Homo sapiens: one gene and its partners. The protein of the gene in region 2 interacts with the protein of the main gene of each other region in a biochemical or structural test. Each region holds a gene or a part of one and is shown on either strand. Other genes may lie near its edges.

The links.
Region 1: the proteins of NOS1AP (region 2) and ARHGAP21 interact in a test that uses a peptide from one of them, tested with the Homo sapiens proteins (one large-scale study listed by IntAct).
Region 3: the proteins of NOS1AP (region 2) and FRMPD2 interact in a test that uses a peptide from one of them, tested with the Homo sapiens proteins (one large-scale study listed by IntAct).
Region 4: the proteins of NOS1AP (region 2) and MAST2 interact in a test that uses a peptide from one of them, tested with the Homo sapiens proteins (one large-scale study listed by IntAct).
Region 5: the proteins of NOS1AP (region 2) and FRMPD1 interact in a test that uses a peptide from one of them, tested with the Homo sapiens proteins (one large-scale study listed by IntAct).
Region 6: the proteins of NOS1AP (region 2) and HTRA3 interact in a test that uses a peptide from one of them, tested with the Homo sapiens proteins (one large-scale study listed by IntAct).
Region 7: the proteins of NOS1AP (region 2) and PDZK1 interact in a test that uses a peptide from one of them, tested with the Homo sapiens proteins (one large-scale study listed by IntAct).

What each region holds. Positions count from the first base shown.
Region 1 is NC_000010.11:24,717,086-24,721,389, forward strand, and holds part of ARHGAP21 (rho GTPase-activating protein 21), read right to left. Parts: intron 1-4,304. UniProt on the Homo sapiens protein: Functions as a GTPase-activating protein (GAP) for RHOA and CDC42. Downstream partner of ARF1 which may control Golgi apparatus structure and function. Also required for CTNNA1 recruitment to adherens junctions.
Region 2 is NC_000001.11:162,362,755-162,367,058, reverse strand, and holds part of NOS1AP (carboxyl-terminal PDZ ligand of neuronal nitric oxide synthase protein), read right to left. Parts: intron 4,077-4,304; exon of another isoform or gene 1,710-4,076; coding exon of another isoform or gene 1,656-1,709; coding exon 1,490-1,655; intron 8-1,489; coding exon 1-7. UniProt on the Homo sapiens protein: Adapter protein involved in neuronal nitric-oxide (NO) synthesis regulation via its association with nNOS/NOS1. The complex formed with NOS1 and synapsins is necessary for specific NO and synapsin functions at a presynaptic level.
Region 3 is NC_000010.11:48,155,551-48,159,989, reverse strand, and holds the end of FRMPD2 (FERM and PDZ domain-containing protein 2), read left to right. Parts: intron 1-2,619; coding exon 2,620-2,668; 3' UTR 2,669-3,428; downstream 3,429-4,439.
Region 4 is NC_000001.11:46,019,745-46,024,048, reverse strand, and holds part of MAST2 (microtubule-associated serine/threonine-protein kinase 2), read right to left. Parts: intron 2,100-4,304; coding exon 1,967-2,099; intron 1,140-1,966; coding exon 1,078-1,139; intron 817-1,077; coding exon 731-816; intron 278-730; coding exon 69-277; intron 1-68. UniProt on the Homo sapiens protein: Appears to link the dystrophin/utrophin network with microtubule filaments via the syntrophins. Phosphorylation of DMD or UTRN may modulate their affinities for associated proteins. Functions in a multi-protein complex in spermatid maturation.
Region 5 is NC_000009.12:37,657,087-37,661,390, reverse strand, and holds part of FRMPD1 (FERM and PDZ domain-containing protein 1), read right to left. Parts: intron 1-4,304. UniProt on the Homo sapiens protein: Stabilizes membrane-bound GPSM1, and thereby promotes its interaction with GNAI1.
Region 6 is NC_000004.12:8,290,251-8,294,554, reverse strand, and holds part of HTRA3 (serine protease HTRA3 isoform 1 precursor), read right to left. Parts: intron 3,186-4,304; coding exon 2,991-3,185; intron 2,235-2,990; coding exon 2,202-2,234; intron 469-2,201; coding exon 354-468; intron 1-353. UniProt on the Homo sapiens protein: Serine protease that cleaves beta-casein/CSN2 as well as several extracellular matrix (ECM) proteoglycans such as decorin/DCN, biglycan/BGN and fibronectin/FN1.
Region 7 is NC_000001.11:145,675,739-145,680,042, forward strand, and holds part of PDZK1 (Na(+)/H(+) exchange regulatory cofactor NHE-RF3), read right to left. Parts: intron 2,908-4,304; coding exon 2,711-2,907; intron 476-2,710; coding exon of another isoform or gene 420-475; intron 1-419. UniProt on the Homo sapiens protein: A scaffold protein that connects plasma membrane proteins and regulatory components, regulating their surface expression in epithelial cells apical domains.

The DNA of each region.
Region 1 (4,304 bases), on a different chromosome or scaffold from region 2:
TGCATATACTTGATATTTAAAACCATGAAACAGTATTGGGAGAAGAAATGAGGATTAACTGAGCTTTGAGGTGTAGAAAGGTTTAGCAAATCAGGATGTCGAGGAAACCTCAAAGAGACAGAAGGAGGTGACAACGAGGAAGGAAGATAATCAAGAGAGTATAATGTCCGGGAATCTAAATGAACACTGAATAAAATGTAAAGCCTTTCCTGCATATTCATTTATTCATTCAAAAAATATCACCTGACACTTACTATGTGTCAGTCCCTGTGGAAACAAACATGGTCCCTGCTCTTATAGGGACTGCAATCCAAGGGGGATATAGATAAACTTGTAACTGGTATTCCTGAAAGTGCAGGGTGTTTTGAGAGAATACACTAGGGGCAACTGAAAGAGTCTTGCGGGTCAGGGAAGGCTTTCCTGAGGAAGCAGTATTGAAGAAAAGACCAGTATGATGAGTAAAAATCAGCCATGGAGCAGAGGGAGGAGGAACAGGGGACAGTAGAGGGAAGGGTAGAAGAAAGGACCTGACAGGAGTTCAATCTAGGAAGAACAAAAAGAAGTAACAAGTGAGACAGAAGCGCGGACCAAATTACCAAAGTCCTTTCAGACTTCACAGAGGTCTGAATTTTATTTCAAAGGAAATGGGAAGACAGAAAATTGTCTTATAGGAGGTAATGTAACGATCAGCTGGAGTACAGTGGCGCGATTTTGGCTACCTGCAACCTCTGCCTTCCGGGTTCAAGGATTCTCATACCTCAGCCTCCAAACAGTTGGGACTACAGGTGTGCGCCACCACGCCCAGCTAATTTTTGTATTTTTAGTAGGGACCGGGTTTCACCATGTTGCTCAGGCTGGTGTACAACTCCTGACCTCAGGTCATCTGCCCATCAGGAGGATCATTCTGATTACAGTAGGGACAGAGCTGCGGAAGGGGACAAGGCTAAGTTATTGGGAAACTCCGTAGGGAATCTGTTTCTGTGGTTCATCAGTGAGATGCAGCTGACCTGAACTCAGGTGGGGGTAGTGGGTATTGGGAATGTGGACTCCACAAGACTTTGCATATGAGGAATGACGAGACGGAAGAGTGAGAATGCTGACCTAGTTTTTGACTTGGACCAATAAATAGATGGTAGTGCTACTCAGCGAAAGAAGGTGCACAGGAAGAGGGAGAGTCAGCGGTAGCGGTGAAATCTGATGAGTTTGCAATGCCTGGGGAATATCCCCCAAAAGTGTTCGGTAAATAGGCAACTGGCTGAAAAGGTCTAGAGATCAACCATAAAGCCTGAGATAGAGGGGTAGATACGGAGTCACCAGCACACAGGAGAGTGCAAAATAAAACCCAGGGAGTGAGAAAGAGAATACAGGAATGGAAAGGCCTTGGCTCTGGATAAAACCAACAATGGGGCAAGAAGAGGAAGAAAAACCCTACAAAAGAGGCAGATAGAGAGGGAGATAGAAAGGAGGGGAGGAGAAGAGAGAGCGCCTGAGAAGGAACTAGGGAGTCTGGGATGAAAGCAAAAGCAAACTGTCCAGCATTCCAGAAGGAAGAGTCAACACATGGATTCATACAAACTCGTACCCAGAAAAATGTCTTATTGTATTGTTTACAGTATTTCAAAATCAACCAACAAGTGTATTTCATCAGCCATAATACATTTCAGTCATAGAATAATCTTAGCCTAGGTCAAGAAGCAAAACAAAAATAAGTTCATTTGCATTAGTAAAAAGTTTAATAATAAAGTGACAAAAATTCTATTACTGGACAAGAGTATGGACTACAGATAAAAAATGAAATAAATGTTAGAAATGGAAAAAAAATCATGTGGTTAAGAAAGCTGAGGGAAAGTTTTCTCTTCTTTGGCTTAAAAAAAAAGTTAAACCTTGAAAGATGAAGCTATATGGATATGAAAAGGGGTGATAATATCATAGAGGATTCAACAGAAGAATCTATATAAAGTGATTTTGTGAGCAAAGTTACTCAAGGATTGGTGTCAGAAGACTTCACGGACTACACACACACACACACACACACACACACACACCCCAAAAATCACTTAAGAGGTTCAGAGTGAGTGATTTCAAGTTTTAAAAATACACCTTGAGATGTATAAAAGTATATAAATTCGTGTGAGTACCATCTGGACCATCCTTACTGTATAATGCCAAGACATATTCTACTGAACTGTCCTAATTTCTTATTTGAAGAGGGCTGTTTATTTGTTTTGAGGCTTCCAATATATCCTGGGGGTGGGGAGGCCTAAATGTATATCATATATCAACACAATAAAATTGCAATGCTTAAGATGAACAAGAAATCTCTGATTGTTTTTCAACAAAGCACAAGGCCTTATTCAGAGAAGGTGGAGTTGGCTAATTAGATAAAGCATGAAACAGAGACTCCTGTTAATTCATTACATTGATTTCTTCTGTCCTATAAAGTTAGGTTTTCTTGGCTGATTAACAGCATTACTATTAAGACACACATGCTCATCTCTTTGTTAGTTAAAAACACAATAATAAATGTAGTATCCAAACACATTATTGATTTTTAAAATTTTTTAAAGAGTGATAGTACCACTGTGGAATGTAGTGCTTCTAATAAAATTGACGACAAAAATTAAATGCAATGTTCAAAAACCTAAATATCAGCCCAAAGTATTTCATTAGCAACTAACTCCCTATTACTAAAAAATATTCACAAGATTTAATGTGTATCAGAAGCATCAATCACAGATTAAAACACGTCACAACTAAATACAGGCAATAATTACACAAGTTCTCTTCACTCCCAACCCTGAGGTTTTAAAATGTTTTCTGACAACATATATCCCCTTTATTTCCACTTCCACATAGAATCTAGGCAAAATACCTATTCTTTAGAAAGTCAAATAATATTGTAGTTTAATACCAAACCTAAATACTGTATATATATTTCACATAAGCAAAACACAGGTGATATTGTGTTTTCTTCATTGCTAAACTTAAAAACAAGATAGCCATGCTGCCAGCAGTAAGGTCCAAATGAAAACAAATTTCACAGCCGTTAAAAAATACATAACTGTCATTGTTAATAAAAGCCAAGTGTGCAACAAACTGGAAATACTGCTTGCTAGCCAAGGACAAGATGTGTCTAAATTCTTGGTTTCAGGACATCTCTTAAATGACCAAAAAAAAAAAAAAAAATCAAATAACATTAGTTCTTGCAAACAGAATGCAAATACAATGCTAATTAAAGTATTCACAAGACAATGACAAATAAGGCTTCAGGACCACAATACATATTATTATGTAACTGCAATACACATTAAGCAATCACCAGGTTGCAGGTAGGCCTTCCAAAAGGAGTTATTATGGTTTACCGTGATCAGAGGATTGTGGTGTTCCACTTAATCATGCTTTTGCCTGCAAGCAGGTGTTTACAGATGTCAAAAAGTAAAACACTGATTCTAAATGTAAACCTACAGTTCTGCCTAATAAATTGTACAGTAATAGCACACTGTACCTCACAACGTTTTCTGCATAAACTTTCTAATTCGACATGAAGTAAGCTGCATGAAGCAAGTTTCTCCGCTTGCTTTATGAACCAAAATTTAACTTCTGATTCATTTTTATTAAAATGCCAAAACTCACACACTTAGAGCCAGCCCTTGTTTCAAGGACTATGAAGTTAAAATTTAACATCCGGTGCAAAAGAAAGTGAGACAGTGAATGAGGGTTCATTTGGGTATGTTATTGTCTAAAGTAATCCTCAACCCTTCAATGAAAACATAGGCATCTCAAAAGTAAAATTTAAAGGATAACAATATTCAGTCTATTTAAAGAACAAATTACAGGAACCGCCAATGATAAACATAGTATATTCATAATAGAAGTAAATTCCGAATACTTCAATCTCCAAACACGAGGAAAAAAAAAAAAGGTGAGAGGCAACAGAGTATATGCGTGTCATAAATCAATGTATTTTCTATGATTTCTGTCCTGCCTGCTCAAAAATTTTCAGGAAGTCTGGAGTAAAATCTCTGGGCCCTTGGGAAGATGTTAGATGCTAGATGCTACCCTAACCAGCAACGCAACCCACCTGACACCCCAGAGCAGCTCACAGAACTTCAGAGTAGTGAAAGGGAGGGTATAAATAAGAGAACAGTAAAGGCAGGAGATTTTTCCGGGAGTTGGAATTACGACTCTGTAAGGTCGTTTTCCAAGGCTGTGCTTAAACTATTCACGGAAAAACACTTCTTTTTCTACCTAAAGCAGAGATCTGCAGCAACAGCAGCCAGACTCCCCTCGTCAGTACCAAAGAA
Region 2 (4,304 bases):
GAGCCCACTGCAGGGGAGACAAGAGGTAGCAGAGGGGCAGCGTTAGGCAAGGTTGTTGATTTGGGATGCCCGCCTTCTGCCCGCCCGTGCCCTGCCAAAGCCCTTCCCAGACCAGCTTAGCAGCACCTCTCCGGGCTTTGGGTCTCTTAACACTTCACCCTTCCTCCCGCCCCCACATAGCTCCAGACACACCTCGCTGGAGGGGAGGAGCTTTGGGACGTGGTAAAGGCGGGGACATAAGAACCATATGATGGTTCTGGTAGCCACTGAAGGCTCTGAATAGGGTTAGTGGTAGGAAAAAGGTACCAATTGAGAGAACCATGTTAGAAGCCTGTGGTAACCTTTAGTACAATCATGTAAATAAGCATTAATTAGGATAGAGCAGAGTTTCAATGAACAATCTGGAAAATCCAGAGAGGCTTCCAGAGTGGTGAAGGGCACTGGTTTCCAATCCACACCTCTGGGCTACTTTAAAAATACAGGCTCCCAGACCAGCCCTAGACAGAACGATGTAGGATCTCAGTAGGAAAGACGCATTTTTAAAAGAGCTCATGGGATGGTTTGGGGGAACCACTGGTATAGTTGGAACAAAATTTTGCAATCAGATCTAGGTTTGAATCTTGGCTCTGCTCCTTGCTAGGCCTATAACCTTGAGCTAGTTACTTAACCTCCCTGAGTCTGTTACCTCATCTGTAAAATGGCATCCCATTTTTCTGCAGCAGAACTACAGGGATTAAATGAGCTCACAGGCAAAAAATTCTATCACAGTTTCTGGCACAATATGTGATCAATGGCTATTTGCTGGTCCACAGCCCACACACACTCTGAGCATGCAAACAACCCACGGAAAGGCTCAAGAGGAAGGCGTGAAAATGTGTTGCGATCTACAGCTGCCCAGCCCAGCCCAGGGGTACTGAGTGTAGAGACAGCTTCTCAAGCAGGGGCCAGGCAACCTCTGCTATTGCCCAGCAGAGCAGTGCAGCCAGATTCCACTGCCTTATCCACTGAACAGATATACTGCTCCCAGCTTTTTCTGTGTGACAGAGTCTTGAAATACATAGTGCAGAGTAGTAAACTAAGAAACAATCTGCTGTCTCCCACAGAGCTCACAGAGACCATGACACCCAATAGGTGCCAAGTATACTGTTTGTTGATTGCAAAAGCTCTCTGAGAAAGAAATGGGCTGCCCTAGAACACAGAGTACCTGAGCCCCTATCAAATAGAGACTGGATGAGCACATAGCAGTGACTCCGGGGACATTCAAAGTCCAGCCCTGGGCCTGGATTAGAAGGCACCCGAGATCTCCTTTGGGCATGTGATTCTGTAATTCATTAAGTATACTAATGGGAAAACAAAGCTGCCTATGTTTTCTGCTGGAATATAGGGGTAGGTCAGGGGTCCAAGAAAGCACCACCAAAAACTTAAGGAAAGTGACACTCTTTCCAGAGCCTTCACAGAGGAAGCAGGGCTGGGCAGGGCACTGGCTTACTGGCGTTCTGTCCTGACAGCTTCAGTTCCAGCTCTTGCACCTGCTTGACCAGCAGGGAGATGTGCTGGAGCATGTCCTTGTTCTGCAGCAAAAGCTGATGCACGCGAGCCTGGGCCTCCAGCCGCGCCGCAGCCTCAGCAGCCAACTGGTCCTTCAGCAAGTGTACCTGCAGAGAAGAGGCAGCGGCAGAGAAGACAGGACAGAGAGAAGAGAGGGACATGAATGCACATGAGAGTCACTGGCAGATGGCCGGGACCAGAGATGCCCTCCACATTCAGTTCAAGAAGAAGCCCTTCACGGGCAGCATGGGCATCTGGGCTTATCATTCCAGAGGAGGAGCCAAAAGGAGTGGGTTCACTGGCACTGCGAAGCTGTGTGTCCTAAGGGAGGGCCATGATGCATCACTAAGGTACCCATACCAAGGGCAAGAGGCAGGAAAGAGCCATCGACCCTCTAGACCTGCCACACACACACACGTACACACACACGTGCACATATACACACACACACGCACGGTGCTCCATCCCTGCTTAGAGAACTCCTTCAGCACCTAGCATGGCATGCCATGTTGGAGGTGGAAGGGGGCACTCTCTTCTCATCCTGTCTTCTAAAAAACAAAACCAAAACTCATCTATTGACCCACTGGCTAAGAACAGTGTCACAACGAAGCCCATATAATCTTTCTCCCTCTCCCACTCACCCAAACATAGTGAGAAATAGGAAGCACTACACATGGCTTTTTAAATTAGTGAGGCAGCTGTCATCAAGCCACTCTGTAGGCGACAGCTTCTTTCCCTGTCTTCCTTTTTTATTTGCTATGGCAGACATCTAGGACCATGATTCATACCACATATTACCAGGACCACCTGGTAGGGGTCAAACATTTGCTGACTGATTCATGAGAGGGCCTCCTCCAACCAGCCCAGAAGGGCTGAGGTGAACAATTTGTGGCACCCTCATCAGTTTCCAACCTTCTTAAGGCAGAGCAGTTGGCAGCAATGCATTCAGCATGCTTGAGGCCCAGTGGTGTCAACAGCTCTGTTCTTGGTGAGCAATACTTATGTGGAGATAAAACTCAGTGGGAGGAGACAGGGGCAACCAGACCAGGACCCTGGTTTGAAGAAACTGAGTTAGAAGGCCAATACCAGTGTTCACACATATGTGATTCTTGTGCAAAGAAGTGAATAAAGAGTTCTCCAGGGAGCATTTCAGAAGGCCCCTGAAGAAAGGGAACTAATGAATTTTTATGGCCTGGACCAATGTAGCTTATGGGGAAAAGGGTGTTCTTGTACCAAAACCATGGTGTGGGTAAAGACAGAGCCAGGTGAGTGGGGGCAGGAGAGGTGGGACGAGGATGCAGGAAGATGGATGGGGAGTCAAAAGCATTAGCTGATTCCCTTGCTCAGAAAACAAGTGCTCAAATTTCTGAAGAGGAGTTTGCTCCAAAGAGATTCACATTTTTTTAGGGAGTAAAGGGCAGTGCTACCTCACAGTTGGCCACCCTTGGCCAAGTGACTTGCTGGCCCAGGGTGTGCCCCTCCCAGCAACCAGCACTCAGAGAATTACACTTGTGGATACCGTGGCTGCCTCCCTCTTGCCCAGATTGGAGGCCCTGACCTTGCCGTTGACCCTATTTCTGATTGAGTGGAGCCACAGGGGCATAATGCCTAAGGAATTTAAACTAAATCTGTCCTCCATAAAGCTGCTAAGGACAGAACTGATATTTTGGTCAAGAAGTCAGACTCATTTTTTTGTCTCATATTAATTGAGAGAAGATCTGGGGAGGGGTGAGAACAGGTGTGATACAGTGAAATACATGTTTGGTCTTCATCCCTGTTTCCTGACATATAGCTCCCCAAACCCTTGAGATCTCCAGAGTGGTAAGAGTGTTTTTTGTATGCTTATTAGATGATTAGTGGTTGGGGAACCCCTGGAAGCTTCGGGATGGGGGCTGCTCACAGGACAGACCAAGGTATGATTAGAGGATAGGATTTTTCAGTCCCACGCCCCAACCTCCAGGAGATGAGGGGCTAAAAGTTAAACTAATCACCAGTGGCCAATGATGTAATCAATCATGCCTACATAATAAAGCCTCCATTAAAAACTCAAAAGGACTGGGTGTGGGGAGCTGCCGGGCAGCTGAACATTTAGAGGTTCCTGGAGGGTGGTGCACGTTGGGAGGGCATGGGAGCTCTGCCACCCTTCCCACAGACCCTGCCCTATGCATCTCTTCCATCTGGTGTTCATTGGTATCCCTTATAATATCCTTTAAAATAAACCAGTAAATGTAGGTGTTTTCCTGAGTTCTGTCAGTTGCTCTAGCAAATCAGTTGAGTCCAAGGAGAGGGTAGTGGGAACACCAATTTATAGCCACTTGGTCAGAGGTGTAGGTGACAAACTATTACTTGTGATTGGTGTCTGAAATGGGGGAAAGTCTTGTGGGATTGAGCCCTCAAACTGTGGGATCTGATGCTGTTTCCAGGTAGATAGTATCAGAATCAAACTGAGTTAGAGGACACTGTGTGCCCTCTGCAGAACTGCTTGCTTGCTTGGTGTGTGGGAAAAAGCCCCATACATTTGGTCATAGAAGTATGTTGTGACAGTATAGCAGGAAGAAACTGAGTTTGTTTCTTCCTATATCCACTCAACAGGGAAAGAAATGTCAATAATATTGTAATCTGGATGTCAGATGGTGGGTGGCTATTAAGGTTTTCTCCTCTTTGGAAAGGGAGGCATGGAGAAATTTCAGCTGGGGGTCCCCCAAATCTATTTGGTTCTAAGGAACAGGACAACTGCTATGGGAAGCCCACAGATA
Region 3 (4,439 bases), on a different chromosome or scaffold from region 2:
GATGAAGTTAGGAGGCTTGCATTTATGGGCCATGCTGTATGCAAAATGTTTGTCTTTAAATGCTGGCCCAATAGAAACAGAGACAGATTGAGAGGATGAAAGATTTAGTTCTCCCACTCATGTGCACTTCAAGGCTTACACTTATCGGTTGGAAAGTTGGTCTTTGCAGAATGTTTAAGGTTATCTTTCTCTTTCTCTTTTTGCCTAGCACATATCATTAAACTCATGTAAGTAAAATGCACGTAAGTTCAACAAGCATCACTTTGTGAAAGTGATGGTATAAATCTTGATGGTCATTTATTTAAGAAAGCAAAATAAAGCAGGACTCCTGGAAATGAACCTAAAGTTATGATATACCTTCTGGGGAAGGGCACTGCCTGGAATAGCAAAAGATAATTAGGAGGCCAGAGATCTCACTCAACTGCAGGGGCCAGGCCAGGTGTGATGTCAGAGTAGTTAGGGAGGGATGCAGTTGCCAGGTGAGGGAGATGTCATGCCTGCTCTTGGGTTGGAGTGTGGCTGAGGGGAGTGAGGGAGGCAGCAGAGCCTGGGCTGGATCCTGGGTGCTGCCTCTAGCAGGATTCTCTTTACACCTTACAGGCTCCCAGGGCTATCCTTGGGTATCCCCAGATACCCAGGGGTATCTGTCCACACTACTGTGACAAATCCTAAGTATTGTACTTCAGCTCAGATTTATCATCTGAGCTTCAAATCTGGCAGTCCGTTGAACTTGTTTACTTTGATGTCTTAGAGATACTGTAAATCCAACCTGCCAAAACTAAATGCAGTTGTCAGGAGCAGAGACCTGGGGCTCCCAGCTGTGTCATCAGGGCTAATGGAGACCTCAATATGGGGCCTGATGTTGGAGAACTGGAGACATGAAGGGACACAAACCCCAAACTTTGTTGTGAGTTTAACCGTAAGTAAATAGGACAATTATAATACCTTCATATTTCAAGCCTGAAATGCCCAATCTGCTTCTATGAATTTCCTCCTGAAAGGCAGAGATGAATTTGGTGGCCCAAGTCTTTAAAGGACAGCTGTCCAGAAAAGTTGGGCACAGTGTCTTTTCTCAGTAAACATTCTGTAGCAAGCAGAGCCTTCAGAATGGTTTCACTGACTTCAGAGCTGAACTGGGATTCCTCTTAAAAATACCCACTGAAGAGTTTCAGGACTTGGTGGGGACCCTGGTTCTGGGGTCCTGCTGGTTTGTATGGGAGACATGGCTGGCCAGGAAGCCCACGTGAAATCTCCAGATTCTCCTCTAGTTATCATCTGTCTATAAAAGCCTCCTTCTGTTGGACAGCTTGGTGGGCAGAGAGTGAGGGCAGGAAGAAGCTGAGATCATTACACAGAATCAGGGGGTGAGCAGAGAGCCCCGTGTACTCCGACAGCATCAGGGTCTTGCTGAAAGTCCTGCTACATTAGCCATGAGCTGGCCGGCCTTGAACCCTGGGTGAAGAACTCCACCTCTTTACCCATCATGTCCACATGCAAAACATGAGGCTTGCTGTGAAAGAATGTCTCTATCTTAATGAAATTCTCCAAATTTCCAAGTCTTGCCCTTTCCGTGAAATAGGCATACAGGCTTCTGGTGCCTCTTTATTCCCTATTCACCCTTTCCCTATGTCCACAGTTGAGCCCCAGGTCAAATCTCCAAGGGCAGCCTGATGGCACGTGCAAAAGGATAGAAGGAAAGGCAGTCGTTCTCCCAACTTGTGGTGGGATGATGGCCAAGATTTCACCCTTGGGACCACCAAGTCCCCCTGGACAAGTGGGGAGCAAATCGCTTTTTCTTTGGTTGAACCTCAGATGAAGCCTTGCCTCTTGCCTCTCAGGCTGATGGCTTCCCTAGGTCTCTGTCCAGGCAGAGCCAGTAGCTGGAGCTCCGAATCAAAACCAGAGGGCAAGGAGCTTATTAGAAGAGGTGGAGGGAGTCTACGGGTGGGAGGTGAGGTGTGGACACTGAGGCAGCTGCAGTGGCCAATGGACACACACAGCTGCCATCTTCCACTCCTCAACAAGGCTTAGTGAGCTCAGAACGGAGGGAAGGGGGTGCTGCTTGAGGTGGTGGGGACAGTGGTGAGCCTAGGCCTGGGCAATAGGCTAGATTTCCCATTCTTTGATAAAACTTCTTGAATGTTTCTTTCCCATGTTTATAAGAAAACACAGTTTCTACATGATTTAGCCAAGCTTAAAGTCAATTTTCCCTGCAAATGCTCAAGAATTAAAAATGTCTTTTGACAGTGAGTGTTCCTCTTCAGTCTTTGTAGAATAATTTCTTTTTTATACACTTGAGTGTGCATATATTTACATGAAATTCACTATTTCACATACCTTGTAGCTCTCATGAGTGGAAATAATGTCTCTTTCACAGTGAAGCTCAGTTTGGGACAGATGCTTCCGGCTCTACTGGGGAGGAGGACGTGCTCTCTGGGTATCTAAGGGTTTGTAGCTATTGGGGTGCACCAGAGCCAATTTTAAGAGAAAGAGGCAATGCAGGAAAGGAGAAGGAGAGCAGCAGCACATAATAAAGCCAACCCATTGATTTGGGTGGGGGTAAGGAGGCTGAGAAATGAGGATCCATGTATTTGCTAAATCTTTGTGCTTTTCTCTTAGATATTCCTTCTCATCTCCTCTAACCAGACTTTCGACAGATATTTTCTGAGCACCTTCTCTGCATGTCTGCAGTGCTGTGTAAAATGCCCTACCTTTGCATGGACTATTCTTTCTAATCAAGAGGCGTGTGTGGCGAACTTGGGGCAGCCCCTGGAAGTCTTGTTCTTTGACCATTACGTCTGCGGCTGCATCACCAGATAATGAGCTTCACCACTCGTCTGCCTCCTGTGTCCTTCCGCGGGGAGTAAATGTCACTTCAGCTTGCCGCATCTCTAAATAGGCAAATTTTCAGTGCTCAGAAAAGGACCTGATCTTTGCACAAAGTGCTTTGATGGTTGCCTGCTTGAGTCACTCCCAATCCCTTCCTGAAGCCCTTTCTTTATAATTCTTCTGTTGAAATAGCCATCATATTCACAGTACTAATCACAGCATCTCACATTTACTAAAAACTTACCCCATACCAGGAACCCAGAGTTGGGGGGGCTGTGTCAGAATTATGTAATTTACGTGTCCCAATAATCCTAGACGCTTCTTGACCATCTAGTTTTGTCAAATGAGAAAACTGAGGTTCCAAAGAAGTCAATAAACTTGTCCAAAGTCTGACCGACTCTGCTTGCCATGTGACGAGTCTGTCTTAGAACTGGGTCATTGCCCTGCTTGCAATGCTGTGCCCTCTGGCAAGCCCCCCCATCCCCCCGGTCTCCTGAGCTCGGTAAGGTGCTCCAGCTGCTTCTATCATAGCACTTCCTACATGGACTGTAACATTTCTTTACTGCTCCAACTTCTCATTAAATTGGGGGCTCCTCAAAGCCAGGGTTGGTGCCTTATAAGTTTCTTGCTTCCTGGTGCCCAGAGCAGCCTCTGGCATGAGCTGTTTGAACACTGGCTGAGTCTCACGGGCCTGTGTCGTGCAGAGTATTCTAAAAGGCAAGGGGAAGGTGGGGTGAGGAATTTTTTTTATCAAGGCTGGAAGAAACATGGGCTTCTGTATTCTAGTCCTGAATTGGATGGGGAGGATGGGGAAGGTGACATGTACCATCCATGTGGAGCCCCTTCTCCCACCTCGGAGGATGAAGAGTATCTTACCATCAACTCTACATGCCAAGGCCAGCTACCCTGTGAAGAATGTTTGGAGGCAGATTCTGGGACCATTCCCTTGCCACAGTTCTGCTCTTGGGGCACTGTCCCAGAGTCTTTGCCTCCAGAAGAGTCCCCAGAGAGTGGGAGTGAATGGGAAGACCTGGAGGAGCCTGTGGCCCTGGAATACGGTGCCCTCAGGTGGGTATCACTCTGGCTGGGTGGACTGGGGCTGAGCTCTGACCAGAGCAGGGCTCAGTGCTATCAAGCCACTTCAACTGGGGGTGGGGGATGGTCTGTGGGCATTGCCCAGTTTCCCCTGCATCTTCTTTGGGGGTCATGCGTCATTGTAATGGCCATTTTCACAGAACACTTACCATGGCCCTTGCACCATGACAACGACCTACAACATGGGGACTGTCATCACCCCCATTTCACACATGACACATTTGGGGCTTTCCCAAGGTTATCCAATAAGTAAGTGACAGAACTAGAATTCAAACCTGATCGGTTCCCCACTCCACGGCCCACCTGTCGAGCACCCATCTGTTCTGCCTCCTATGTACAGGAGTGTGCATCTCTCTCCTCAGGTCTCTCTCTTTTGGGGGTCTGAATGTCTAGTGCTGATTCCTGTTTTGCCTGCTCCTACCTGCCCCTCTGCTGGATGTACTGCAGAGAAGAGTCTTGGTGTCCTGTCATAGGGCCCATCTTGTTGGACTGCTGTGGCTGAGTATAGACCAGCA
Region 4 (4,304 bases), about 120 Mb from region 2:
GTCCCTGTTTAAGGCTAAGTCTCAGACTGTGCCTTGGCCTCCATGCCAGGCCACCTTTGCCTCAGTACCTTCAACGTACTCCATCACCATGCACAAGTGGCGCTTGGTATCAAAGGAGCAGAACATGCTGACCACAAAGGGGTTCTCAGCGAAAGTCAGTATGTCACGCTCCACGAAGGCCTGCTGGATCTGGTTCCGTAGGATCAGGTTCTGCTTGTTGATCTTCTTCATGGCAAAGCGCTGCCGGGTGGACTTGTGCCGCACCAGAAATACAGCCCTGGGAAACAAAGTCCGGCCCATCCCCCATGGACCCTCAGCACCTGAGCTGTGCTCTCTGCCACCCAAACTGCCTTCTCTCACACCTTAATTAATGCACAGAACAAGGGGGCAAGGGCATGCATATCAGTGAGAAGGGTCTGGGACCCCCTGGTCCATAGAACTCTTAAACTTCTTGATAGACCATGTCCTGATGACACGGCTCAATGCTTCCCCAGAGCTCAGGGAATGGAGGATGCGTGGTAGTAAGAGGCGTGGGAATCTTGTCTGGGAAAGGAACAATGATCGGATGTCAGAGGAATCTGAACTCCTGCCCACCCAGGAGGCTTCTGGGAGTGAGAAGGTCCACCCCGAGGCATCTGCCCAGAGGACTGGGCAGCATACACTCTCACATGGAAGAGATCAAAGGCTGACCCGGCTTCAGTCCTGGCCACACCCTGACCCCTGCCTTTACCCATAGGCGCCATTGCTGATGAGCTTAATGGTCTCGAAGTCCTCTTCAGAGGGTGTCTTTTTAGATGGCAGAGATGCCCCATGGCCCTGGAAGACAAGGGAAAAGGCAGGAGACAGGCATGCTTCTCAGAGCCCATATCCTTGCAGAAGCTGTGGCTCTAGCATCTTCTCAGCTGTCAGCTCTAGTGCAGTCTCCTGCTCATTCTTCTGGGAGTAGAATGACTTCTCAGTGTTTGCTGTCACCAACTCCCCCATCCCTTCCTCAGATATTCTCTTAAAGAGAATTCATAGCTCTTTGCTTCATAGGGCCCAGGCTCCAGGAATGGGGTAGGAGCTCAGGGTTTTTACCTCAATAGAATCATCTGTCTCTGGAGTGTCAGGACTGTCACAGCTGCTCAACTGGGCCATTTCTGGAAACAAAGATACAAGAGAAGAATGTGCGTGGCAATGTCAGGTATCTCAGCAGTATCCTCAGATCACACAACAGGTGCATGTAGGGTAGTCATTAATGCTTTTTGCATCAGCCTAGGATGTGAATTCAGTCCCATGGCACTATACCCAATGTAGTCCCAGCTTTTGGATCAGGAAACAAGCCAAATCCTACTGCTACTCCCATTTCCAGAAGTCCATTGCCATTCACAGGGCCTGGCAAATTCTATAAACTGGGGACATTTCCTGGAAAACAGGGCCTGAAACTGGGTTACTAGTTCCCATCCTGCTGGCCAAGACTGCTTCACTGGATGGGGCTGGGAAGCACAGAAGGCAGGAGCAGGATACCTACAGACCAGGGACTTGGAAGCCCATGGTTGCTGCAGGGGTTCAGCAGGAAGCCCAGAAGAATGGCAGTATCCTCTGAAGCCCTGTGTTGGACTACCCCAAAGACACAGGAAGACCTGTAAGGTGGCCAAGAGTAGAGGCAAGTTGCAGAGGAGGTGACCATTTTTGCAAATGTGATTGTGGCCCTTTGTTGTTGACCTCTTTGGAACTGAGGTTCTAAATGCAACTCAGCCGGGCCAATGCAATCCAGGTTGGGATCTATCAGGCAGATGTGAACAGCAGTTCCAAAGTAAAGACTGTTTTGTCACAGAGATCACAGGGTATCTCCTAAAATCCTGAGGCCCCCGGGGCCATGTTGTGTCCATGTCCAAGCTAAGTCTCTTTTCCAAGCAGCTTCCCTGCTGTTAGAGCTTGCCAGCAGCAGTGGGGCCTCTTTGCAGCCACTAGGCAGCATGCTCACCTTCTAGGGGATCCCGGGTGAGGCCCAGCTGGCTAACGATGTAGCGGGGAATGTCACATTTAATCCCTTGTCCCTCTTTGGCGTGGCCCTCAGCTGCTTCTAAAAGGTGGTAGAACTCTTCAGGGTCAAACTCCTGTACCAAGGGAGAGAGATAGTCAGTGGTGACAGATATAAGCGAAAGCTGCTGGCATCTTTGGTTTTACAGCATATAGTAGACTGAGATGAACAAGACTTTCTCTGTGATAGGACACTCCCACCCCTGAATATTCAGAAACAACATGATTCAGGGATCACAGGAATGGGGACAAAGATGTCTTACAGGTCACCTCCAGATTGGACATGCTAAGCATATGCTGTCTTCCTGGCAGTAAGAACTAGAGGTTTTACTCTAAAGAGAGCTCAGCCTATTGATCTGGTCCCATGCTTTCCATCAGCCAGGTGGCACTGTCTGGTGTATTCAGATGCCCAGTCCACAGCTGTCCTGGCACACACTCAATTATGGCTCACAAGAGCTTTGGCAAAGCCCTACTGGTGCATGTATACCTTCAAATATTTACTGGGCACCTCCTATGTGCTAGAGGCTGGAAATCCATTGAAAAGCACAATCCTTGTCTGCACATAATAACTGAGTGCCTACTAAGTGCCACACACTGGGTTAAACCCTCTAGCAACTCTTTGACCTCACTGAGGAAATCAAGGCTTTCAGGGATGCACTGATTTGTCCATAATCACAGTAGTAGGAAGGAACAGAAAACCAGCATTCAGCCCAGGTCTGACTCCAAGCCCCTGCTTAGCCAAGGACTTCATGTTCCTGAGGGAGAGGCTCTCTGCTCTATCACAGCATAGCCTCTGCCCTGAACTCTGTTCTCATTCCCTGTGGCCTCACTGTTTTGGAGAACTGTACCTATCTGGATATAACCTACGCCAGACCTGGAAGTCCTTTTAACTTCTTATCCTTCCTTAGCTCCTATTTGGTCAGAATGTCTCTCTCATAAATACCCCTCTAATCCACCTCTTTCTCTCTATTATCCTACCATTCACTGTCTGAGTTCTGGCCACCCCATCTCACATGAATTTGCTTTGAGTACCTCTCCCCTGATGTCCCTGGCTCATCCTGCCCTCTCTTCCAATTCACTATCCATGTTGCAGCCAAAGTAATCTTTCTTAGGACTAAATCTGATGTAATATTTACACAGAAATAAATAGGAACCAATTACTGATACATGCAACAACATGTATGAATTTCTACAAACATGCTGAGTGAAAGAATTCAGAACATACTACAGAAACCACACAGAAACATGGTTTCATTTCTAGGAAACTGTACAAAAGGCAAACCCATCCCTAGTGAAACAAAGCAGTTAAGTTATTGTCTGGGAGCAGGAGGAAGAGAGGACTGACTTCAAAGGGGCACAAGGGAACTTATATGACAGAAATATTCTCTATGTCAGCTGTGGCCACGATTCTACAAGTGTGTATTTGTTAAATCTCAATGAACTGTACCATCAAAGGGATATATTTTATTGTATGAAAATTATACCTTAATAATATTTTTTAAGAAAAAAGTAAATGCGGCCATGTCACATTCTTACCTAAACTTTCTGGTGTCTCCAAGTGGCCGTAAGGGTAATGAAAAACTCCAGAGCCGAGAACCCGACACCCTCCATGACCCTGTCACAGCCTACCTTCCAGGCTTACCCCTCAGCACTTCTTCAAACCCACCCTGTGCCCCACTGAATGCTCCTTCCCATGCTCCCGATCTGGGAAACTTAGACTCATCCTTCAGTTTGCTGAATAAGCCTCACGTCCCCCAGGGAGCATTCACTGAATGTTCCTTCCAGGGAAGACTAAAGCACTTCCTTTTCCAGGTTCCCGTTACGCTGTGTACTGACCTCAACTGCAACACTTCTTGCAGTATTGTAATTACTATTTACATGTCCTCATGCCTCATGCTTCCCAACTCCACTGTAGAGGAAACATCCCAAGATCAGAGACTGTGCTTTATTCATGTCTGTATCTCCAGTGTCTAGCAGGAAGTAGGTACTCAGTCAAGTATTGCTGAAGATAAAATGAAGGACTCAACTTGTACAAACTAAACTGGGCTATGCTCCTGACGCTTCTCACCCCCAAGACCCCCACTGATGTGAGCCCTGCTCATGTGGGGGTGGCCTAGACTAATAATTCTCCCTGCCGCATCCCCTCAGGACCATACATTTGTCCTCACAAAAACCTGTTTAGTCCCCCAATGGTGGCAAATCATATTTAAATAAGGACCTAAGCAACAGAAATGGCAGTGGTTACCACCACAGTTTTGCTGTCATCAGGATACTTCCTCTAT
Region 5 (4,304 bases), on a different chromosome or scaffold from region 2:
CCCTGTATCTTCTTTTCTGTAAGCTTAACATGCACAGATAATCAATTAAGAAAGCAAGTAAACAATGGGCCTCAGATCATGCAACTGGTAAACTCAGGCCTGATGAAGTCAAAGGCCTGGGTACTTCCCCCTGCACCCTCCTGCCTCTGTGACTCTAGTACTAAGACTACAAGGCACCAAGAAGAGCCAGCTGGACCGAATTAGCAAGTTCCCAGGTCAGTCTGGCCATGTCACAGAACAACAGGCAGCAGTTCCAGGGGCTGGACATTAGGTCCACCGCCTCCCTATCCTCTGAAAGTGCAGAGAGGGGGCACCACCCCTCCAAGTCTCTACTAACTTGGCTGATATAGCAAACCAACTCCAGGAGAGAATATAAGATGGAGAAACACAGAGGCCCACATATGCTCTTGACTTAGCCAGGATACTACTGATGACTGTAGAGACCAATGAAGGCAGCTGGGAGCCAGATGCAGCTAAGGAAGTAGTCATAGCCATGCATTCATTCATTTCATCGGTCAACACTGTACCCCCCAGGCCTCCTTCTGGGCTCCGTACTGAATGAGCAGCAAGGCTCGGTCCCTGCCCAGGAAGCTCACAGTCAAGTGGGGAAGGTTACACAGCAACACCCCATGACCACACTGTCTGGGGAGTATTGCCTTGCAGAAATGAAAGTGCAGGAGGGAAGGCTCCCAAAGTCTGGAAAAGATATCCCAGATAAAGCATCATATTTTGATGTGGGGATATTTTGAAGTGGCTATACCAAACAAGCCTTGTCAAAATGGAAAATCACTGTTCTTTAAACCCATTGTTTAAACCTACTTTAAAATCACTGTTCTTTAAGAGAAATGAGAAGCGGAGGTCTCTAAGCAGTGCAGTCTGAATATCTTCCTTACTAGATGGTCCTTAAGGTCCCTGTAAGACCTGAGCTTCTTCCAGTGCAGCTCCATCGGATGATGACCAGGAAGGGGGCCACCTGAGGTCAACTTTGGATACACTGTTCTATCCATCTTTCTCTTCTTTATCTCCTAGTCACCCACTAGGGCTCGGTTCAAATGCCAGTCCCTCCCAGAAGCCCTCCTAGATCTCCCTGCAAGGCATGGCCAGCCCTTGCTAGGCTCCCAAGGGTCTCTGCAAAGCACAGCACCCTGCCCAGCACTGACTTACTTCCAGCCGCAGGTGGGGCAGGGACTGTCTGATTCATCTCTCTCCTCCCTCCCCGCCTCTCCTCCCCAGCCCCTATCCCCACACAGGCCTTTCTTAGCAAAGCACATTGAAATGAGTGCAGCAGCCATCTAGGAGGATGCCGTCGGACAGGAATCCTGGGGGCAGCAATGAGTGGAGAGTCTGGAGCTGCTCAGTGTCCAGAACTTCCCAGGCCACTACCCTCCCCCTGCTTTCTCTCAGCTCCACTACTAGCTTCACCAGACGCAGCTCTTCTGCTTGCCCCTCAGTTTTGTTTTTTTTTTTTTTTTTTTAGTGCTTGAAAAGTCAACTGCAAACAAAGCAGCGCACTCTCTTTGTGGAGAAAAGCACATTTTAGTGGGAGTTGCATTTGGAGAGCCCAGAAGCCAGCAGCAGACTGGAGATCACACTTAAAGGACCATGGAACTTCTGAAACAGGCTAGTTGTAGGGCAAGAAGATGATACTACTATGCCCTTACAGGGTTGTCAAGGAGCATTTCCTGATTTTTTACAGAGTATTTGGGCACTGAGAATATAATTTCCCTCAAATTCAGTGAGCCAATCTCAGTCTAAATTAGTGGGAAAATGTGAAGACATAAGTCTTCCACTATGTGTCCCTTCTTTGTCCAGAGCACATTCACTGTGGGATCTTCCCTACGTCTGAGAACCGGCAATGAATATTTTAATAGCCACAGCTTCTCCTTCCCACTGACAAAACCTCCACTGGACTCGCCATAGCATGCTGGTGGAAATGAGGGTATGCACCAGAAAGACCTGAGCTTTCTCCTAGGCAGCCTAATCCCTGAGGGCCCCACCCACATCTGTACAACAGGAGTGATAGGAACAGCCCCGGCACCCTTCAGAGCAGCAGCCAGGATGCTGAAGGAAGGAGGAGACAGAAGACATGTGGCCTGAGGATCTGAGGCCAGTGACCCTGGAGAGCTGGGTTCAAATACAATAGAAACAAAAGGGAGTTGCAAAAGTAGAGAAAGTAGAGAGCCAATGGCTGAATGGCGGCCACCCTAAAAAGATATCCAAGTCTTGGCTGGATGTAGTAGCTCACACCCGTCATCCCAGCACTTTGGGAGGCTGGGACAGGAGGACTGCTTAAGCTCAGGAGTTTGAGATCAGTCTGAGCAACATAGCAAGGCCTCATCTCTACTAAAAATAAAATTTAAAAATTAGCCAGTTGGTGTGCGCCTATAGTCCCAGCAATTTAGAAGGCTGAGGTGGGAGGATCACTTGAGCCCAGGAGATCAGCACTGCAGTGAGCTTGATCATGCCACTGCACTCCAGCCTGGGTGACAGAGCCAAACCCAGTCTCAAAAATAAATAAATAAATAAATAATTCCAAGTCCCAATCCCAGGAACCTGTAAATGTGATCTTATTTGGAAAAAGGATTTTTACACCTATAATTAAATTAATGATCTTTAGATGACGTGCTTATCCTTGGATTATCCAGATGGACCCTAAATCTCAGGACAAGTGTCCTTATAAGAGTGAAACAAAGATTTGAAACAGACAGGAGGAGGCAACGTGACCAGGGAGGCAGAGACTGGAGTGATGCAGCCACAAGTCAAGAAATGCCAGTGGGCACCAGAAGCTGGAAGTGACAAAGGAAGGATTCCCCTTAGAGACTCCAGTGGGACAGCAGCACTACCAACATCTCGATTTTGTACTTCTGGCCTCCAGAACTGTTCAAGGACACAGTTCTGCTGTTTTAAGCCAAGATTGAGGTGATTTGTTACAGCATTTACAGGAAAAAATACAGCACCTAAGAAGTAGTCAGACAGATGAGGGATCTGAGTCCCAGAGAGGGGGCTCACTCACCCGACCCCACGTCAACCACTGGGCCAGGACACTCGGGTCTCTCTGACGCCAAAGTGCATGCAGTTCCGTAGTGGCCCAGTGCACAGCTCAGAAGGGGGACCCACCGGGACCTAACTGGCCTCAGGCTGTGCTAACGCAAATATAGATTCCGAAGTGAGGCTGCAGTGGGCTTGCTCCTGTCTGGGCTGATCAGACCCCCACCTGCACAGCGGTGTCCCATTCTTAGCTTTTCAGGGGGCCAGATAAAGTGGGCATTCTGCCTAAAGAAGTGAAGATGTGGGGGCCTGATCCCTGTCTTTGAAGGTCCAAGTGGCCTAACTAGCTGTCATAGGGAAGAAGAAATGGATTTTTTGTGTGTGGGGCTTCAAAGGACAGGATCGGGCCAATGGGGCAACCATTGCCGAGAGGAAGATTTTTGGCTTGGAATAATGAAGAACTTTGTAATAACCAGAGCCAACTGAGGATGGAATAGGAAGGTGGTGGGGGTTGGTAGGTCCAAGCAGAGGGAGGCTGGGTATGCTAGGGGAATTCCTGCACCACACAAAGGCTGTACTTGATCATCTCCGGAGCTGGCAGTCTTGTTTGAGGGTCTATGCTGGTAGCTAAAATATCTGGAAACATATGTGTGAATCTAGGTTTTCAGCACATAAACAAGGCACACTCTCACTAAGACACTTATTACGCAGTTTTTGCAAAGAGCTAAGTACTGAAAATAACCAGGAATGAGCTTGAGAAAGAGACCGTCTATTCTTCCATCTCCTATACATAAAATGTCCCTCACCCCAGGGAGAAAGAAAGAGGCCAAGTATGTATCTCCACAGAGACATCATCTTCTAACCAGACCAGGAACTAACAGCACATTCACAGGTACCAGGGGAGCCCTGGACAGTCTGGAGTGGTGTCTTTTTCCAGGGAAAGCCAGAGAGAACAGAGACTGCAGCTACTAAATAAATTATTTTTATAAGAACGAATAAATGCCATCCTCGTCTTTAATAATTGTTTTTCCTTTTGCATCCTTCTGAATTCTACATTGGAGCAAAGAAAACAACAAAGCAGTAACTCAGAAGCTTCACATGTGAATAGTTACAAGTCAGCATCAGACAGGGGTTTCAACTGGCAGGGGAGGTGGGATTGTTATCGTTGGTTTTAATACAAGCTGTAGCCTACACCCTATATTCTAGATACTCAAAGAACAGGAAGCACAGCATTTCTCAGCTGCCTGCACATCTGTCTTCTCTTAAGTCAAAAATCTCAGAGAATGATGCACTGTTGCATCCAGATGAATTCCTCT
Region 6 (4,304 bases), on a different chromosome or scaffold from region 2:
AACACCTGACAACTAAAGAGCAGCCCAAATGAGAGGAGCCCAGGGAGTCCAGGAAGCTGATGGTGGGAGCTGAGCTCGGAGATTCCCCAGCCAAAAGGAGACAGCCTTGGAGGGGCAGGGGATGAAGCCGATCACGAATCGATGATAGGCAGGGGGAAGATCCTGAAAGAGGCTGAGGATAAGCTGTCCTGGGGGTCTCACAGCTTTGGGGTGGGCAGACAGGACCTGTCCAGTAGTGAGCAAAGTTCACCCAGCACCTCCGGTGGGCCTTGGTCCCAGGGCTGGGGTGTTAAGGGGCTGTAGCCCTGGGAGAGTGCCCCCTGCCTCTGGCCCCCTCCAGGTGAGCTCTTTACCTTTGATCTGCTTGTCTTGGAACTCTGTGAGGAACCGTGTGATGCGGTCTGAGGGGATGGCAAAGGAGATGCCAGCCGTGACCTTGAGCGTGTTGATGCCAATGACCTCGCCATCCTGGGCAGGGAGGTAAGAGCAGGCATCAGTTGGGGGAACCCAGGCAAACCCCTGCCCACAAAGCACTGTGTCCACAGCTCTGTTTCTAGAGGCTGACCCCAGCTGTCAATCCCCCTACAGCCCCCAACTCCCCTGAAAAGCTCACTCTCAGGATCACACCTGTGTCAGTGACCCTACCTCTCCAAATCCTGGAGATCCCCCTTCCCCATCCCTGGAGAGTATTTCCAGGGAAGCTTGCAGCTCGGGCCTGCCCCCAGGCTCTGGCCACTCTGCCTCTAAGAAGCACGGCCACTGGGCCAAGGACACCGCCAAGCCATGTTTGGAGGGACCGAGAGAGGGAGGAACATGGTAAGGCCTGTCGGGGACAGAGACCCTGTCTATCCCTACCTTCCAGAAGTGGGGGGCTGGCAGGTGGGACCAGGGGAGCTCCTTGACCCCCCCATCCCTCTCTTTGGAGACCCTCCAAACCTGCCCTGCCCCCCATGAGGCTGGTACCACTTGGGCAGGATCTGACCTGGCCCCTGGGGACCTCACACTCAGGCACACTCCTGGAAAGGAGCCCCACCCCACAGCCTGGCTTATACCCCTAGCCCTGCCCTCCCTGTCAGGGCCTGGCCAGCTCACCAGGGATCCCTCTGGGGCCTGGGGCAGAGCTTTGGGTCAAGGCACCCTTTGTCCTCCTGGTCCCTGGAAGCTCAGGAGGCAGGAAGAGCATCCGAGTGTGAGATCCAGTAGATTGAGTTCTGTGTCCACCCTCGGCCCTCTGTGCCCATCTCTACTGCCTGGACCATGCGGAGCAGCCTCCTGGGCCTGGCTTTCTGGCCTCCAGCCTAAACCACACACACGAGCTTCCTTGAAACCAGGGCACGGCCTCAGCCCTGCCAAAAGCCTGGGAGACATCTTGGGCACATAGGGTGAAGCCCCATCTGCACACGAGGCCTGAGGCAGCAGGACATGGGCCACCAGCCCCTTTCATTGTCCCCTTGTCTGACCTCCCCCTCCCTAAGCCTCTGAGAGCCTCCTGCAATGCTCATGTTGTGCCTTCTCCCTGGGATTTCTTCTTCCTGTACCCAGTCCTCCTCAATCTCGATGGCTGTTGTATAATGCTCTCACCTCCAGGAAGCCCTCCCTGATCTCACATCAGCTGCCAGGTCTTCCTGCCCAGCGTCCCTCCAGAGCTATCTCATGTGGCTCACATGGTGCTTGGGCTTGTTCACATCTGGACACCTCCCCAGCCATGGATAGGAGCTTCAGGGGTGGGACCGTCCGATCCTTCAGGGCCTAGGAGCTCTGAACTGAGCTTCCTGGTTTATTCTGGAAAAATCTCACCTGGGATGAGGCTGAGCTTGACTTTGAGGCTCAAGACACAACTGGGAAGGGGAGAATGAGGGTGCCCCTGTCATCCTGTGTGTACATCCAGGGCAGGGAGGGCTGAGGTGAGCAGCCCCACACCTGCGTCTCCCTTGCCCCAGCTCCCCTGACAGGCACATGGCCCTGGACTGAGCTGCTGCTCATGGGTGAGTCCTCATTCCTGGTGGCCACTAGCATCCCCGAGGCGCTTGGGGCAGCCTTGGTCTTTCCTCCTTCCAGGCCTCCGGCCCAGCTGCACTCCCGACTGTTGGTGTAAATGTTCTAGGACCATATTGTGGGCCCTGTCCCACCTCAAGGCTGAGCACCCCCATGTGAGAAGAACCCCAGAAACCTGAGAGATTTTGGCTCTAGGGGACACTTACCAGGTTCACCAGTGGTCCCCCGGAGTTCCCGTACTGCAAGGGGAGGAAACAGCATTAGCTGTGCCTGACCCCGCCTGAGGCTTCCTGGAGCCCCTTCTCCAGATCTGCCTCTAACCAGTGCAGAGACACATAAGCAGGTCTCATCCTCAGCAGCATCGAAAGGCCTCAGTGCTGCCCCCATTTCACAGATAAGAAGGCCATGTGGATGGCTGCCTGATGACCGAGGTCTGACTGTCACTGTTCTCTGCACAAACCATACGCTTCGGCATCTACACCCCGGAGGCCAGGCAGCACCGCCTGGTGCATGGAGAATGGGGGTATTACTTCCCATCCTGCTGGCCTGGGGGGGCCCTCTACAAAGACTCGGATTCCAGCCAAGTGCCTGAGCTGCGGCAAAGCTGGATGGACGTGATCTGGGGCATCTGGGTGAAGTGCTTTGTGAATGCTAAACGTGCCACCAACATAATCACAATAATAATGAAAAGCAATGTTGGCCAGGGTGTGTAAGCTGGGCAAAGGTGTTTGCGGGCTGTGGCCATGCCTCTGTTTCTCTGAAAGGCTGCCCGAGCGAGGACAGCAGCCTCTGACTCCCAGCGTGCCTGGCACCCTGGGGTGGAAGTCACAGGGTTAGAGCTCCACCGAATGTAAAGAGAGAACTTTCTAGCAAGTGGATGTGTCGAGTGCCAGAATGGCTCTGGGGAGGGGGGCAAGCCGAGTCAGAGACCACCTCGAGGTTGAGGTCTTGGGCACAGATGGCAGGTGCCCCGGCCTCCTGTCCCTGGGACTCACGTTGATGATGGCATCCGTCTGGATGTAGTCCATGTCGGAGTCCCGGAGGCCCAGCTCCCTGCCCTCCCGCTGGGCAGTGCTGACGATGCCCGTTGTCACTGTGTTCTGTAGGGCGAAGGGACTGCCGATGGCCACCACAAACTCCCCAGGCCGCAGGTCGGCCGAGTGACCCAGCAACAACACAGGGAGCTTTTTCTAGGAGAGAGAAGGAGAAGACACAGAGAGGGAGGCTTAGCCGTCTACCTTCAGCGGGGACCGGAGTCAGATCCTGGCAGGGGGGTCCCAGGGAAGGCATGCACATCTGTGCAAAGCCACCAGGACTGTGAAGGCTCAGGCAGGTCACCAGTGCAGACCAAGACCAGGGCAGTCCTGTGCTGAGACCCAGGGCTGGAGTACACGGAACAGAGGCTCAGCTGTGCCAGGGACCAGAGGTTCCCCCAGGGCAGGCATGGGTGCTCATCATGTGCAGCTGAGCACAGCCTCCAAGGTCGTTGAGCCCAATGATCTGATGGTCACATGGCCTCTAAAAATCTGGTAAAAGCTGCAGACACCTGGTAAAAACTACTACACCATATGCACCACACACAAACTGATGCATTTGATGGAGAGAGATCTGCAGACAACTGGAGCCCAGCTAAGGACTCTGACATCCTTGATCCAGTTCCATCTCATCTCCCAGTAGAGACACACGGGGGAACTCAGGCCTGGAGAAGTGAAGCCACTAGCCGAGCTCCACCCCACGCCGCGCACACTGAGACACCTGCACACCCCTCTTCTGCTTTTGCGCGGGCCCAGCGGAGCCTGTCTGTCTGATTATCTGACTCTGCAACTAGCCTGGCAGCAAGGAGAACAGCCAAGCTCTGTGTTCCAGAAGCTGCGTGGTGCACACTCTGAGAAGGTAATCCCGGGTGCTTGTTAGAAGGTGCCGAAGCGCACACACACACACGATAAATTGGGGAAGGCGGTTCTGTGCTCGTACCCACATCAACTTCCTGGTTCTGGTTTTGCACCCATTACCTAAGATGTCACCGTTGAGGGAAGCTGGCGGAAAGTCTCCTGGGACCTTGTGGCACTACCCTGTAGCTTCCCGTGGATCTGCGATCGGCCAGGTCTCAAGAGCATTGCCCCAACTTAGGAGATCAGTGGGGCAGGACCCCATGCCTCTGACCCTCTGGATGGCTCCCCTCCACCAGGCCACTGGTCCTTCTCATCGTTTCAGTCCTCTTCCCTTTTATTATACACCATCATGTCAAATAAGAAAGTTTCTCTTTGCAGCTTTCAATACGAGGAGAAAGCTGTCAATAATGGGGACGA
Region 7 (4,304 bases), about 17 Mb from region 2:
GGGCTTGGTGGCTCATGCCTGAAATCCCAGCACTTTGGGAGTACAAGGTGGGCGGATCACTTGAGGTCAGGAGTTCGAGACCAGCCTGGCCAAAATGGTGAAACCTCATTCTCTACTAAAAATATAAAAATTAGCCAGGTGTGGTAGCACACACCTGTAGTCCCAGCTACTTGAGAGACTGAGGCAGGAGACTCACTTGAACCTGGGAGGCAGAGGTTCCAGTGAGCTGAGAACATACCATTGCACTCCAGCTTGGACAACAGCGGGAGACTCTGTCTCAAAAAAAAAAAATGAGATTTTATTCATGCTTCATTCAGATAATTGGGTGTCTAGTATGTGCCAGGGACTGCTAGAGGGTTGTGTTTTACTCACTGATGTATCTCAAAGATCTACCCTCCACCCCAACCTACAGGGCTTACTTTGGAGAGCGGGGAAGGAGATGATGAGGGCAGGCTTCTTTTTCGATCAAAGTTCTCTATTAACCAAAACAGAAAAATTACAATTAAATCATTCTATGATAAGATCAGGAGGGGTCAGAATCCCCTTTACAACAAACAGCTGCAGCAGCCGCCTCTGATTTCTGCTTGACTTTCCACCAACTGCAAAATGACTCATCATTTCTGGCAGCTTCAGTTGGTTCTTAAGCCAAAAGCTAGCTCCCTATGGCTTCTCTGGTCCTGTTGTGCCCCATAGGACACCTTAAAAAAAATGTGTGGCCCGGGCGTGTTGGCTTATACCTGTAATCCCAGCACTTTGGGAGGCCGAGGCGGGCGGATCACAAGGTCAGGAGATCGAGACCATCCTGGCCAACATGGTAAAACTACTAAAATACAAAAAATTAGCTGGGCATGGTGGTGCGCACCTGTAATTCCAGCTACTCAGGAGGCTGAGGCAGGGGAATCGCTTGAACCCGGGAGGTGGAGATTGCAGTGAGCTGAGATGGCACCACTGCACTCCAGCCTGGTGACAGAGCAAGACAACGTCTCAAAAAAAAAAAAAAAAAGTGTGCTCCTTCTTACATGTAATAGCCTTTCAAATTCTTGAAGATGCTCTCTTCTCCAAAGCCTTACTCAAGCTAAATACTCACATGGTGGCTTCCAAAACCTCTTCCCTGGTTACCCTTGTCATTGCCTTCTTAAAGTGAAGTTCTTGAAACCGGACACAATATTGATTGAACAAATAGAACATTTAGATGTGTGAGGCATTATTCTACATGCTCTGAATATTCCAATTCAACCCTCATAGCCACCCTTCGCTGTAGCTACTACCCCTCTCTTACAACTAAGGAAACTGAAGCACAGAGAGAGGTGGTAACTATATTACCAGGTATTCCAAGTATGGTCTGACCAAGTAAGTACAGTAAGATGGTCATCTCTAGAAGCCAAGTGTCTGTCAGTTAATTTTTAAATTACCATATTTGGATGGGGCAACCACTTGGACTATGAAGTTTCTGGTCTTTTTCTGTAGTCCTCAAATCAGGTCTCACCATGTGGTATTCATACAATTTACTTTTAGGTTAGTATAGTACATCTGAAATTTATTCTTATTTCTTTAGTTTTCATTCTTTCTATCCTAACTAAATATTTTGAGTATTAATTACACCATCCAGCAAATGAATTATCTAGTGCCACTTTAAGTATGTTAATATATTTTCCATATCTCCTTTCAACTTTAAGCACATAAACGGTTAGGAACAAGTAGCATGCCATTAGAGACTTCTATTCAAGTTGATATTCAGGTTGATATCAAGTATTTTCTAGGTATGATTGTTCAAGTAGCTAAAAAAAAAAAGCCATTAATCTAATTAATTGTTTAATCCTGCTTACAAGATTATCTTGAAAAAATGTGCTGGGGAGTATGGTATAATGAATTACGGGTCCAAGAATTTGGGTTCAGATACCACCTTCAGTCTTTACTAAGCTGCGTGACTTTAGCAAAGTGCTTAGTCTCTCTAAGCTTCGGTTTCCTAATCTATGAGGAGGGCCTAAGATATCACCACCCATCATATTCCCCCCTCTGTACCGCTTATTTTAGATTCTACTATCATTGTATATCACAGAGGACATTTATCTTGTTCATCTTTACAATCAACACTTAGCAAGACAGATGGTACTTAGAAGGCCCCCCAGGTTATCTGTTAAACTAGACAACCTCAGTTCTTGTGTTAAAAGTAAAAAAAAAAAAAAAAAAAAAAAAAAAAACCTTAAAACATGCAGTAGTGGGTGTTATGATAAAGAGCTGTTAAGAGAAAATAAAGTTAGTTTGATTCAGGTTGGTCTTGGTCTATCTGTGTTTCTTTTTTATTTGCTAAGGGCTTACAAGTTGTTTAATAATCCTTTCTAGGCTTTTATGTGCAGTTGATAGCACTTAACTGACCTAAAGCTTAAAATCTAATTGTTTCCTATTTTGGGAACAATTTTATTTCCAGGCTTATATTCTCCATAGATTTTCTCAGATCACCAAGAGTAAGCCTGCAGTTATATTCACAAATTCTTTCAAAATCTTAAGACCAAGGACTTAAAACTCATTTATCAATCATTTGGCATTCTCTTATCACTACCAATTTGAGTTGAGCTTCAGTTTAGCCTTAATGATGATTGTTATGCCTCTTCCAGTTTGAGGAACAAAGTCCTAACTCAGTGCAAAAGTTGAGGTCATGAGTGAATGGGCCCAGCCTTAATGCATGAATATATGGCCTTGTATTACTTACCAGTCTGTACATGTTGTCCGTCTCTTTGTCTACCACCAACAGTGAAGTCTGATCTCCACCCTTTCTAATCATTTCTACCACACTGTCATGATCCAGGGTTTCCACAGACTCGCCGTTGACAGCAACTACCAGATCATTGTTCTTCAAGCCAGCCTCCTCTGCTGGACTTCCAGAATCTATGTCCTTGATGATTTGACCTACCCTCCCCCAACCCCAAAAAATAAAATTATCAGTAAGTCCCCTAAAAAAATAAAACAGATTTTCTGCTGGAGCCCAAAGCCCTGATGAAACAGATAAAAAAGGCATGCTGAGTACAACTACCACCCCTTCCACCAGCATCCCAGGAAGCTTATAAGCACACTATCTAGGCTCGTTTCCTGCTCAGAACTCACCCCAGAAACTAACCCAGCAATTAACAATGAAGGGGTCTTAACGAAAATAATCCTGTTACTAAAAGCGTCTGACATTTGATTTTGGCAAAATAGCATATTAAAAGGCTGCAAGTTCCCAGAAAGTCAGTGGGCATACTTGTAGCCACGCGTCTTATGTAAAAGCTGTCATAAAAGATGGGGAAGAATAAAGAACAAAACCCAAAACTTTGGACCTTAAGAAACCCAGGCTGGCATTTTAGTAGCAATTGGGTGTGTTCGGTTTTGAATATATTTGTATATACATGCCTCCATGTGCTTTGGCCTTCTGGTATCTTCACCAGATGCTGCCTTTTTTTTTTTTTTTAACAAGTTCCTGTTTCACTTTTCCAGCTAGCTGCTGGGTATCTCCAACAAAATATCTCATAGATCTCTCAACTGTAATGTATTCAAGCCAAAAATCAGCTCTGCCCATTCTCCATCCCAAAGCCCCTCCTCTTGGTTACCTGTTAGTGGAGCAACATCATCCCAGTCACCAACACTTGGCAACTGATTCTTCCCCAGCATCCAGTCCCCATATCTAGACGATTGCTAAGTCCTCTGATGCTACCATAATACCTTACACATCCCACTTCCTCTACCCTGAATGCAGTTTGTATTAGTTCCTGCCTAGAATTCTACCTAAACTATTACAGCACCTTACCTACTGCTTTCCCTTCCCCAGTCCTTCTGTCTGATACAGATCTGCCTTCAGATCCATCTTGGTGCACATTCCTAACCAAGTCACTTCCTGGTGCAACAGAATGAGCATGGGCTTTGGAACTAAACAACTATTTGACCTTACATAATTACTGTATCTTCTCCAAGCCCTCAATTTCAGCAGTTCTTCTTGCATAATTGTTAGGAGTAATTGAGATGTGCAAAGCCCCCAAGACATTATAGGCTGGTTTTTGTTCTTCTCCCTTATACTGCTCAAAAAACAACTCCCCATTGTCTGATAAGCCAAGTTCAAACTCATCAGTCTTGCATAGAAGTCCCCTTGTCACCTCTCTCCAACCTACCTTTCCAACGAATTCTTGTACTACACATCATGTGCCAATTAAACTGTGCCAGTGTCTCCTGACTGTGTTCACATGATTCCCACCTTCCTGGAATGATCTTCCTTATCCCAGCTCTGTCTACTTTCCCAAATCTATTCATGTTACAAAGCCTGAACTCAAGTGCCA